4 separate regions of the Homo sapiens genome follow, and regions 1, 3 and 4 are each linked to region 2. Evidence: fine-mapped expression QTL. A gene starts in region 2. Each other region holds a variant in brackets. All regions are shown on one strand. Distances are from middle to middle.

The links. PIP is the estimated chance that this variant, and not a neighbour inherited with it, causes the effect.
Region 1: its variant is fine-mapped to the expression of TUB in thyroid (GTEx, PIP 0.94).
Region 3: its variant is fine-mapped to the expression of TUB in whole blood (TOPMed, PIP above 0.99). The same link has a PIP of 0.9 or more in blood mononuclear cells.
Region 4: its variant is fine-mapped to the expression of TUB in ovary (GTEx, PIP above 0.99).

Annotation. Positions count from the first base shown.
Region 1 is chr11:8,027,830-8,030,512 of GRCh38, forward strand. It overlaps a transcript of TUB not described here. Among named protein-coding and RNA genes, the nearest start is that of CASC23, 13 kb to the left of the region's middle. The variant C/G (reference allele first, on the strand shown) is at 1,100.
Region 2 is chr11:8,079,964-8,082,646 of GRCh38, forward strand. It overlaps TUB (TUB bipartite transcription factor), which reads left to right and starts at 1,248. Exons shown (of 12, transcript NM_177972.3): 1 at 1,248-1,585. The coding sequence starts at 1,548.
Region 3 is chr11:8,017,710-8,020,392 of GRCh38, forward strand. It overlaps a transcript of TUB not described here. Among named protein-coding and RNA genes, the nearest start is that of CASC23, 2.5 kb to the left of the region's middle. RefSeq lists a silencer at 1,488-1,557. The variant G/C (reference allele first, on the strand shown) is at 1,261.
Region 4 is chr11:8,034,231-8,036,913 of GRCh38, forward strand. It overlaps LOC124902627 (a long non-coding RNA gene), which reads right to left. Exons shown (of 2, transcript XR_007062581.1): 2 at 972-1,828. It also overlaps a transcript of TUB not described here. Among named protein-coding and RNA genes, the nearest start is that of CASC23, 19 kb to the left of the region's middle. RefSeq lists an enhancer at 1,445-2,009. The variant C/T (reference allele first, on the strand shown) is at 1,176.

The DNA.
Region 1 (2,683 bases), 52 kb before region 2:
CATTCATCTGTTGATGGACACTTGGATTGTTTCTACCTTTTGGCTATTGTGAAAATGCTCCAGTGAACATTGGTGCGCGCATATCTATTTGAGTCCGTCTTAGATTCTTTTGGGTAGTATAAACCTAGGAGTAGAATTGCTGTTTGGTAATGATAATTCTATCTTTAGCTTTTTGAGAAACCGTGAAACTGTTTTCTACAAAGACTGCACCATTTTACATTTCCACCAGCAATGTACAAGGGTTCCCATTTCTTCACCTTCTCACCAATAACCTGTTAATTTCTGGGTTGTTATTATAATTATTATTATAGCCATCCTAGTATAGTCTAGGAAGTGGTATCTTATCATGGTTTTGATTTGCATTTCCTCAGTGACAAATGATTAGTATTATTTCTTGTGCTTATCTGACCATTTATGTCTTAGAGAAATGTCTAAGTTCTTATCATTTTTAATTAGGTTGTTTGTCTTTTTGTTGTTGAGTTATAGGAGTTCTTTACATATTTTCAATATTAAATTCTTCTCAGATGTATGATTTGCAAATGTTTTTCCCCATTGTTGTCTTCTCACTTTCTTGATAAGGTCCTTTGAAGCACAAGCTTTAATTTTGATGAAGTCCAATTTGTCTTTTTTCTGTTGGTTATGCTTATAGTGTCATATCTAAGAATCCATTGCCAAATCCAGGACCATGAAGATTTACCTGTTTTCTTCAGTGTTTTGTAGTTTTAGAGCTTGTATCTATGTCAGTGATCCATTTTGAGTTAATTTCTGTATATAGTATGAGTTGTGGTCCAATTTCATTCTTTTGCATGAAAGAAAATCCAGTTGTCTCAGCACTATTTGTTTCTACTTTTTCTCTCACTGAATGGACTTGGCACCCTGGTCAAAAATCAACTGGTGAGTCGGGCACAGTGGCTCATGCCTGTAATCCCAGCATTTTGGGAGGCTCGGGTAGGAGGATTGCTTGGAGTCTAGGAGTTTGAGACCAGCCTGGACAACGTAGTGAGACCCTGTCTCCATAAAATTTATTTTTTAATTAGCTGGGCGTTGTGGCACATGCCTATAGTACCAGCTGCTTGGGAGGCTGAGGTGAGAAGATCAC[C/G]TGAGCCTGGAAGGTTGAGGTTGCAGTGAACCGTGATCACACCACTGCATGCCAGCCTGGGCAACAGACCAAGACCTGTCTCAAGAAACAAAAACAAAACAAAACAAAAAACAAACCCCAAAATTAGCCATAAATGTATGGGTTTATTTCTGGACTCTTGACTCTTGTTTTACACTATATCTGTGACCAAAGGTGGATTCTGGCCCACACTGGTCTCTTCTGCAACATATCTTCTTGTGGCTTTTTTCTGGCCCCGGGTTCCCAAACAAAGCATGCAGTTGCTGGTGATATTCTCTGCACAGTTAGGTTTTTGTTGAGTTGAAGAAGTAGCCAAATTCTTATTGTAAAAGTAGCCTTTCGTACTAAGCTGACTTTACCTTTCGAGGAGAACTTAACAAAATATGTGCTTCTTCCACTTTTAAAGTTTGGGCCCTCAGGTTCTTTTCTTTTTCTTTCTTTCTTTTTTTTTTTTTTTTTTGAGACAGAGTCTCGCTCTTTCTCCCAGGCTGGAGTGCAGTGGTGCGACCTCGGCTCACTGCAACCTCTGCCTCTCAGGTTCAGGTAATTCTCCTGCCTCAGCCTCCTGAGTAGCTGGGATGACAGGTGCCCACCACAATGCCTGGCTAATCTTTGTATTTTTGGTATTGACGAGTTTTCACCAATTTGGTCAGGCTGGTCTCAAACTCCTGACCTCAGGTGATCTGCCCGCCTCAGCCTCCCAAAGTGCTGGGATTACAGGTATGAGCCACCACACCCAGCCTGTCTGAGCACTCTCTAGTTCTGACATTCTGTGAGTATATGACCTATGGCCTCGGTGTGTGTTCTGTGATAGGAAAGGCCAGGGTGGAGGGATGAGAACAGGACAGCTGGGATTGGAGGTCCTGGCCGTGGCAGTGCCAGCTTAGGGGTTGCTGGCCAGAGGAGTCGGGTGGCTACCAGAGGCAGGGGGCTGGAGGCTCTGCTTTGTTTTAGAACTTTTTGAGTGCAGCTACTTCTCTTTTGATGGATTTATAGCAGTACAGTACCAAGACAGCTGGACTGGATGGGGCAAATGAGGGCAGTGTACAGAGGGTCGATGAGGAATGGCGTTAGAGGGCAGTGAGTGGGGGGTGGTCTGTTTCCCATCCAGCTGGTGTAACTGGGGCTCAGGGTGATTTATGGTGGAGAGGGGAGTCGGGTATGGAGGTGGGGCATGGACTTTTCAGATCCCTTGGGACTTGCCCGCGCTGAAGTTTGACATCATCAGGCACTGTGGTTTTCCAGATAGGGTCACTGGATGCAGTCCAACAAATGCAAAAAGACCTTGGGCAGGGACATTGTATCTGTGACCAAAAGTGGAAGGAAGCTCCAGCTATGCCTACAGTCTGGAGAACAGTTGCCAAGTAGGGGCTCATGGGTATCTGTTGATACTTACTGCCTTCACTCTGGAAAATCCTGAGCCTGAGTCTCAGCTGGGAGATTCTGGCCCAGCATGTGCTTGGGGGAGATTCACACCTTTGCTGTCTATCCTAAGCCATGTAGTTTGTCCTGAAGGTGCAGCAGTTAGATCTCTGGGCTCAGGTGTGTGTTCCTCTGCAGCCTTGG
Region 2 (2,683 bases):
CCTGACGCCCAGCAAATAATCCAAATATTGTGGGTTATTGTGTTTTATAATTAATGGGCAAGAGAAGGCAAGGCTGAAGGGCTGGGAGAGCCCTGGGGTGGGGGTCTGGCTGTAGCCCCAGGGCAGCAGGATGAGCCCCCTCCCTCAGCCCCCTTGGCTGTTCTCACACTCTCTGCGGGGCAGTCCTGACCGCCTATTTATCATCAGAAGATCCCCGCACAACACTCTTCTGGCGCGGTTGGCGCGGCAGAATCCAGGATGCACACGAGGACGCCCACGGGGCGTGTGGGGACCGTGCCCCTCCGCAGACCTCTCCCGGATCACCTGCTCCACACGCAGGCCTTGGTGACCCCTCAGCCTGCTGCTCCTTGCTTCCGCCCGCCCTGCTGTGGGTCCCGCACCTTCTCAGTGTGCCATGCCTTGCATTCAAGCTGGTCCTAGTCACAGCCAGGACCTCCTCAGCGCGCAGAGACTTTCAGATGATCTTTGTAGGGGTTTTTGCCTCCGGTCAACTGCGCCCCTTAGGAAGGGCTTTGGAGGACACAGATCACAGAACAGTTTCAGCTCCACCACTTCCTAGCTTTACGGCCTTGGGCATCTCAGCATTCCTATTCTCTGGGTTATAGGGATATGATGTTTGTCTCTCAAGGCTACTGTGGAGATTACATACTAGAAATTTGCAAGGGCTGGGAATGCAATAGACCGTAAATGTTCCCCTTCCCTTGACGCTATAGCTTAGATGGGAGGGAGCCACTGCTGAGGAAACACCTCCTTAACCCAAAGACAGAGGGTTCCCCAGGCGGGGGTGTGGGAACTCGGAGGTGGGGGTGAGGGAAGGCCAACCTCCACGCTTCGGCCCGGAGGTTCCCCCGCCTCTTCCTGCACGACTGGATTCCTTCTCCATCCGCGCCTCCGGCCCGGTCCCTGCCCCGCCAAATCCGCGCATCGGTTTCCCATCCCATAGCGCAGATAGGTAGGGCAGGTACACAGGGAGGTGTTCGAATGATCCCCGTTTCACAGAAGACGAAACTGAGGCTGGGAGGCCTGGGGACTGGCCCGGCTGCAGCGCCGCCGTTAGCCGAAGGTGGGAGCCGGCGCGGTCACGCGCATGGAGCGTGGATCGCGACGATTTCGGGGGAGGGGGCAAGGGCGCTCCGCAGGCCCTGAGCCGGCCGGGGGGTGGGGTCTCTGCGGGGCGGGGCGGGGCGGGGCGAGGGAGAAGGGGCAGGCCGCCGCTGCCACGCAGTACTCCCGCCTTGGCGCCAGAGGGGCGCGGGACGGTGCGGTCGGCCTCCCCGCCTCCACGCGCGCGCACGACCCGCGCACTCCCGGAGCTTCGCCCATCTCGCCTCGCCGCGCCGCGCAGGCAGCCGCTCGCAGAGCCAGCAGCCGGGGCCCTGGCGTGCAGCGCGGGCCTCGGCGGGGCCCAGCGCCCCGGCCCGGGAGGATGCGGCCCGGGGCGGCCCGGGAGCTGAGCAGGGCCCCCGCGCCGGCCCCTCCGGGCCCCGGCCTCCAGAGCCGCAGCCACCGCCCCGCCCCCGAGAGACATGACTTCCAAGCCGCATTCCGACTGGATTCCCTACAGGTACGCGGGCGCCGGGCCGGGGCGCCCACCACTCCCGACTCGGGACGTGAGCTGGCTGGGGATACGCGGCCGGGGCGCAGGGCACCGCTGCCCTCCCCACCTATCCCAGCACTGGGGCGCGGGTTGGAGTCGCTGGTCCTTCCTCCCTCAACTTTGAGGGCCCCTGCGGACTGCTCCCGCCTGCCCCGCTCCACCCCCTTATCTGCCAGGGTTGCTGGAAGGGGCCTGTGTGGGCCTTGTTGGGTCAGGCAGCACCATGTGGCCGCCTGGGGAAGGAGTCCACACTGCTCTGAGCCCCCTCCTAGGCCCAGAACCCCAGTCACACGCCTGTGCAGGGTGCGCGCACACGCTCATACATCTGCACGCATGCACCCACAGGACGTCCCTGCCTTGGGCCAAAGACGCTCCTGCTGGTCGGTTCACACTCTCAAAGCATGGATCCGTGAAGACAGTTATTCTGAACCAAGAGCACACCAGTGGTCATGTGGACATGCACCCGTATATTCTACACACAAGAATTCTTGGGCTCACAAAGACACATGCCTGCATATCTGTGCACGTCCACCTCCTGTATCTGGAGAATAACTGACACCTGCTTCTCACTCACAAGTGCTACTCAGTCTCTTTCAGACACTGAATAATCTACTTGCTAGCAGGTCTATACCTAGACACACACCAGCTCACAGTACATAGAACTGCCCTCACATGCAGAAAGGCACTCAAGAATCCAGGCACACTCAGGGAAGCCCCCCACCCTCTGCTGCCAGGCACTGTGGTCTATCTCAAGGATGGCTGGGCTTTCCCATTTGCCTGGGAAGGGGGCGGGGAGGTGGTCTCTGGGGGGCCCCTCACAGGTGCAGGTCTTTCCCTATCCACTCTACTCCATTCTATTACCAGGGAAGGGAGCTCATCGCCATGGCAGCGCCAGATTCTTGGCCACCCATTGGCTCCTTGGTTGCCATGGGCTACGGGGCTGTCTCTGTGGAAAATGGGTGCTGGACTCCTAAGGCCCACTGTGTTATTGTCGACCCAGGTGCACGTGCTAGCGGACGGCAGGATGAGATCCTCAGGTCCCGCCTTGTAACACAGCTTGCTCTC
Region 3 (2,683 bases), 62 kb before region 2:
ATATTGGTTAATGATGCGTTTGGGTAGCTCTATGAGCAAGTTGGGTACTTCAGTGGTTATAGAGATGGCTGTATTGCACAGAAATGGTAAACTTAAAAGCTATAAGGACCAAGCAAGTCATGTAAGAGAAAAGCTGGCCAGCTAGGGCCAGAGGCTTATAGAACAACATATTCCCTGCTCCCGGTGCAGAGGACAGCCACTACTGCGCTCTATGCCTGCCATGCTGAAGACAGGCCCAGCACTGGCAGACATTCTTAGTTTTCAAGAGAGGATAAAAAGCTAGATCTATTAAATCTCCCAATTTTTAAGTGTTGTCCATTTATTCAGTGAAAAGCATTTTTTCCCTGTGATTGTGGGCTGGATGCAACAGGTGCACTGCCAGTTGCAACCTCTGTAACCCATAGGGTTAGCTCTAGTTCACAGGAGTTGTCAGGATCCTTGGATTAGCGTAGCGCAAACCCTACCTCCCCCTCCTCGCGCTCCAGCCTCCTGGCACCTCCACCCCACCCTGACCCTGGCGTGAAGTTAGCCAGCCACCCCACAGCAACTGCCCGAAAGGTCCTTCTTAGGCTCTTGTGACCTCTGCAAGAAGATTATACCTGTAAATCCCTAAAGCCATCAGCCTAAGATGGGGGATGGGAAGGGACTGGGGGCCCGGGGCAGACAAGAAGGCGCGAGCTGGCTCTCCCTGCCCCACCCCTCCCCACCCCGCCCCACCCAGGCGGGCTTTCTCGCCATAGCCTTCCCTGGGTCACTGTCAGACAAGCTCTTCCCTGGCTGAGCCAAGACACTTGGACTTTTTCCAAAGGATTTTTAGTAGTAATGAAGAGAAAGCACAAGGGACATAAACAGAACAAGGTGGCCTAGAAATGGGAGTGTTTACAGAGCTTGGTCTTCGGAACCCAAGAGGGCCGTAATAGACCAGATAGCAGGGCCGAGGGAATCCACCCGGGAGAGAGGGAGGGAGTAGTGGATTTCCATTCTCAGTAAGGAGGGAGGCAGTTGGAAGAGAGGAGGGGACGGTGGTTTCAAGACTTCCACCCTGGGGAAGAAGGGACGGGGAGACGGCGGGAATCTAGGAAATTGGGGGATGGCTATTTCCATTCCTGAGAAGGGGGGAACTTGATTGTGGGAGGTTGGCTGAAGACTCCCACGCCGGAAAGGAGGGCGCCTCTGCGGAAGGGCCCCGAGTGGCGACAGCGGATCCGGGACTCCCAAGCAAGCAGGAGCCGGAGCAGCCTCTTAGCAACCCCTGTCCCG[G/C]GAAGGTTTGAAAGCAGCGGTGCCCTAGTGACGCCGGAAAAGATGGAGCGGTTGTCATGGCGACGCGGAGCACACCTCGGAAATAAATAAATAAGCGCCCAGGCTGCCGCAGCCGCGCCCCCGCGGGACCCGAGCGAGGGGGAGGGGGCCTCACGGGCCCGGGTCCCCGCAGTCGCGCGTCCCCGCCATTGGCAGAGCCGGAGGGGGTCACCCCCCGGGGGGCGAATGGTACAGTCCTCCGCCCGCGCCTCGGCCGGGCCCGCAGCCTGCGAGCCAGCCCCAAGCCCAGCGCCGCCGCCGCCCGCGGAGCCCCGAGCGGAGCCGGAGGCGGCGATGGAGGGAGTCAGCAGCCACCGGACCCTGTCTTACAGCCGCTGGAGCTATGACAGGTAGGGCGCCCGAAGGGTGGCCCTGCGTGAGCGCCTGCTGACCCTCGATCTCCTGCGGGAGAAGCGGGCCTCCGGGGGCTAGGACTGGCGCGAGCGCCCGACCCCCAGGGTGGGCTTGGGCACCCGGACCCTCGGGCATCCGGGACCCAGAGCCTCGGGTACGGCGCAGCGGAGCTCCAGCGAGGGTAGTGTCCCCACACCCACGGGGCAGAGCTGTCGGAGGAGGGCACGCGGCCACTGGGACTAGCGAGCTGGCACCTCTGCCCCCACCCCAGCTGCCCCGCCAGGGTCGCTCCGCCGGGGGACCCCGAGAAAGGGCGCGGAGGGGGCGCCGGGAGGGGCGGGGCAGGGGCCGGGGTGGGCCCCTGGCGGGCGGGGCGAGGAGGGGGCGCCTTCGGCTCTGGGATGCGCCCGCCGGCGTCTGCGCCCCGCCGGCCCTCCGCAGGGACCGAGGCTGGCCCCGGGCGGAGTGTCCCGCTGGCTGCCGGGGACCCGCGAGTCGCTGCCTGTTCCGCGGGGCGAGATGGCAGCCTGGGCCGGCTGTCTGGGCGCAGGAGCGGCGCTCTCGAGTTGCCAGGCTCCGCGCCCGCCCCGCGGGGATGGCGAGCGGCTGCCGGCGTGGGCGGTTTGGAGCTGCGCTCCCCACGCACTCGTCCTGGAGGAAGGAGTCATCCTCCCAGGCGAAATGAAAAAAATAAGAACGGAGTGAGTTGGTCATAAAGCCGAGTACATTTATTCCTAGGTTATGCCTGTTCTACCTTTTGTTGGTGTGTTAAATGCCACCCTTGTATTTAAAATGAAACCATGATGATAGTAGATAGTAGTTTGTTTGTTTGTTGTTTTTAAGTTTCGTAACCCCAAGTCCATCTGCAGAATTCTGGAGTTAAATTTCCTGACCCATGACCCTAGATGGTGAGGGCTGGAAGACAAACTTCATTTACTGGGCTGCTCTCATCTCCGTGAAGTCCTGCTTCCTGTGCTCTCCTTCCCTTAACTCTGCCAAAAACCTCCCTGCATCTTCGACAGCCCTTGTT
Region 4 (2,683 bases), 46 kb before region 2:
GACAGCATGGGATGATGTCAACAAGGGACTTCCATGAAGCCCAAGGGGGAAGGACAGTGGGAGTGGGGTCTGAGGTCTGGACTCTGCTTGAAGATTGACAATGATGGGTGGGAGTCCCTCACCCACTGTAAGCTCTAGGAAGAGGGTGAGCATTCCTGTTGATACTGTGGCCCATTGTGTTGGCAGAGTCCAGGCCAGTTTGTGCTCTTGGTGTGACCCCAGGAGGGAGTCCTTTGCTGGATCATCTACCTCATGGGCTGGTACTGACATGCAGGTGCGATTTCCCTGCCTAAAACAGGCTCCAGAGTAAGACTGGCATCGCTCACCAGGGTAATTATTGGTTTGGGTTCAATTTCCATTCAAAACAGTAATCCCAGCCTGAGCTGGGTGTCAGATCTGAAGGTTGATTATTAGTAACATTTATCAACAGCCTCTCTCAGCTTCAGGCAATTACAGCTCATCTGCCATTCCTGCTCCCAGTCATGCAAACTTGCCAGCTTCTTCCCTGCCCACCCCCTCCATTCCCCTCTCCCCTTCTTCTCCCATCTCCTCCCCTTAGCAGACAACCTGACGGAGGGCAGGAGGTGGGTGCCACCTTATGACTCACTATCACCCTGTATGGAGGGGGTCCATGTGCATGCTAGGCACCTGTGCTCCCCAGCAGCAATATTCATGTTGCAGTCTTGTGAAATCTGAATCTGATTCTATCAGAACTGAGGAGAATCTGTGAAGGGGACAGATGGGAACCCATGTCTCCCGGCTCCTTGTCGCATGATGCGTTTTCAATGGCACTGTGCTCCTTCCTGCTCCTGACTCAGTCTGTCCCTCCCCTCCAGGGCTGAGACTAGGGTGAGGCTAGAAAGACATTGACCTCAAGTGCAACATTCAAAGGACCTCGAACAAGCTCAGTAATTAAGATAAATGATATTTCAATATAGTATTTTTTTAAATCAAAATGAATGCAAAGCACATACAACAAAATCAAACCTTTAATAAAGACAAGATACAACACTGGATTTGCGGGCCTTGTATTGGCCTCACTTGCCTTACCCTAACTCCAGTCTTGTTTATCATGGACAGTTTTGCTTTGATTTGCTGGAAGTATTAAATTTCTTGGCTGCTGAGTTTTTTGGCAAATCTTTAAATTCTGCGCCTCAGGCGAGAGCTTTATTCAG[C/T]TTACCCTGGTGCTGGCCCCACTGCTCTCACTTCCCGCTGGGCCCTAACCTCCTGCTCCCTTCAGCTCTTACTGCCTACTGCCTCAGGCAGGGTGGCTCAGCTTCTCTCTTCGCAGGTGCCCAGGGCAGCAGGGGACCCAAAGGGCCCCTCCATGGGCTGTCTTCCAGGGTGCCCATCCTTCATTCCATCCCACTGGACCCTGCTTCAGCCGTCAGACACCTCAGGGAGGGCCTGCAGGTTGCCAGAGTAACTGCTGTGATAACTGGAGGACAGAACATGCTGGTCTTGCTCTGCTCGTAGAATCACATCCAGCCAGGGCTGGATGAGTGCAAGCAGGCACGCCTGACAGCGTCCCTGACACGCTGATCCAAAACGTCACTGGACATGCATGGAGGTGGAGAACATTCCATGTACCCACATTCCTCTAGGGGGAGGACAGCATGAGGCTGGAGGAAAACTGTGGTGATCTGTTTGTGACAGGGAGGTGAGACGCTGAAGTAGACATGGATGCTTCCTAACCAGCCTTCCGCAGAGGGTAGGTCTCATTCGCTGAAGGGCTTCTGTTCTGCTGAGCAGGGTCTGTCAGTAGGGGGGCACACCTGTCTCCAGAGAATACCCTCCTCCTGTCCTCCCCTGGCTGTGCTCCACTAGCCTAAAAGGTAAACAGACATTTTAGAAAGATCAGTGTTGAAGGGGTACCCAAGATGCCAAATTATATCTGGGACTTGAGACACTGTTATGTCGAGGTCCAGGCCTAGGCCAGCTGGTCACAGTGTCCAGATGCCTGTCACGGTGGGAGGCCTGAGGGTCTCAGGGGACATGTATCAGAAGCACCTCTGCCCTGCCTGTTCCACTCTGTAATCTCCCTTCTGAGCCCCTACTGCAGCACAGAGCCAGCTGGTCATCTAGCCTGGCAGTAGTAAGTCATTCTATTTTCCTGCAGATAGGAATACATGGTTCCTGTTCCTCCTATGCACTCTGCCACTTAAATTCCCCTCTCTGAGTCCTAGGTTCCCCTTTTGTGAAATATCAATGATAGCATCCTTCTTAGAAGGCTGTGCTCACCATTCAGTGCACTAATGCAAAGCACTGTGACCGACTGAAGAGTCATGTTCTGTGGGGCCATGGAGGACAGAACTAGGACTGAAGGGAGGTGTGTTTGAGCTTTAGGTGAAGCAGCAATGGCCAACTACAAAGATGGAGGGACCGCTCTGGGAAGAGCAAACACCCTGATGCTCAGAGTGTGCATGAGGAGGTTTCATAATCACCATCCAGCAGCTTAGCCTCAAAAGGGCTGCCTGCCCCAGGGAGCTATGACCCTTGAGAGATGCAGTTTATCCAGCCCTGAGGTTCTGTTTGACCATCTTTCCCCGGTTGTCCTCCAGGGGGTCATGGCACAAGTCTCAGTAGCACGGGCCCCATGGTCCAGCCTTAAGGTAAGAATGGACCTCCCTGGAGGAAGCTGGCTTCATCTACAGTTGATAAGTTCACCTTTTTTCCTGGTCCA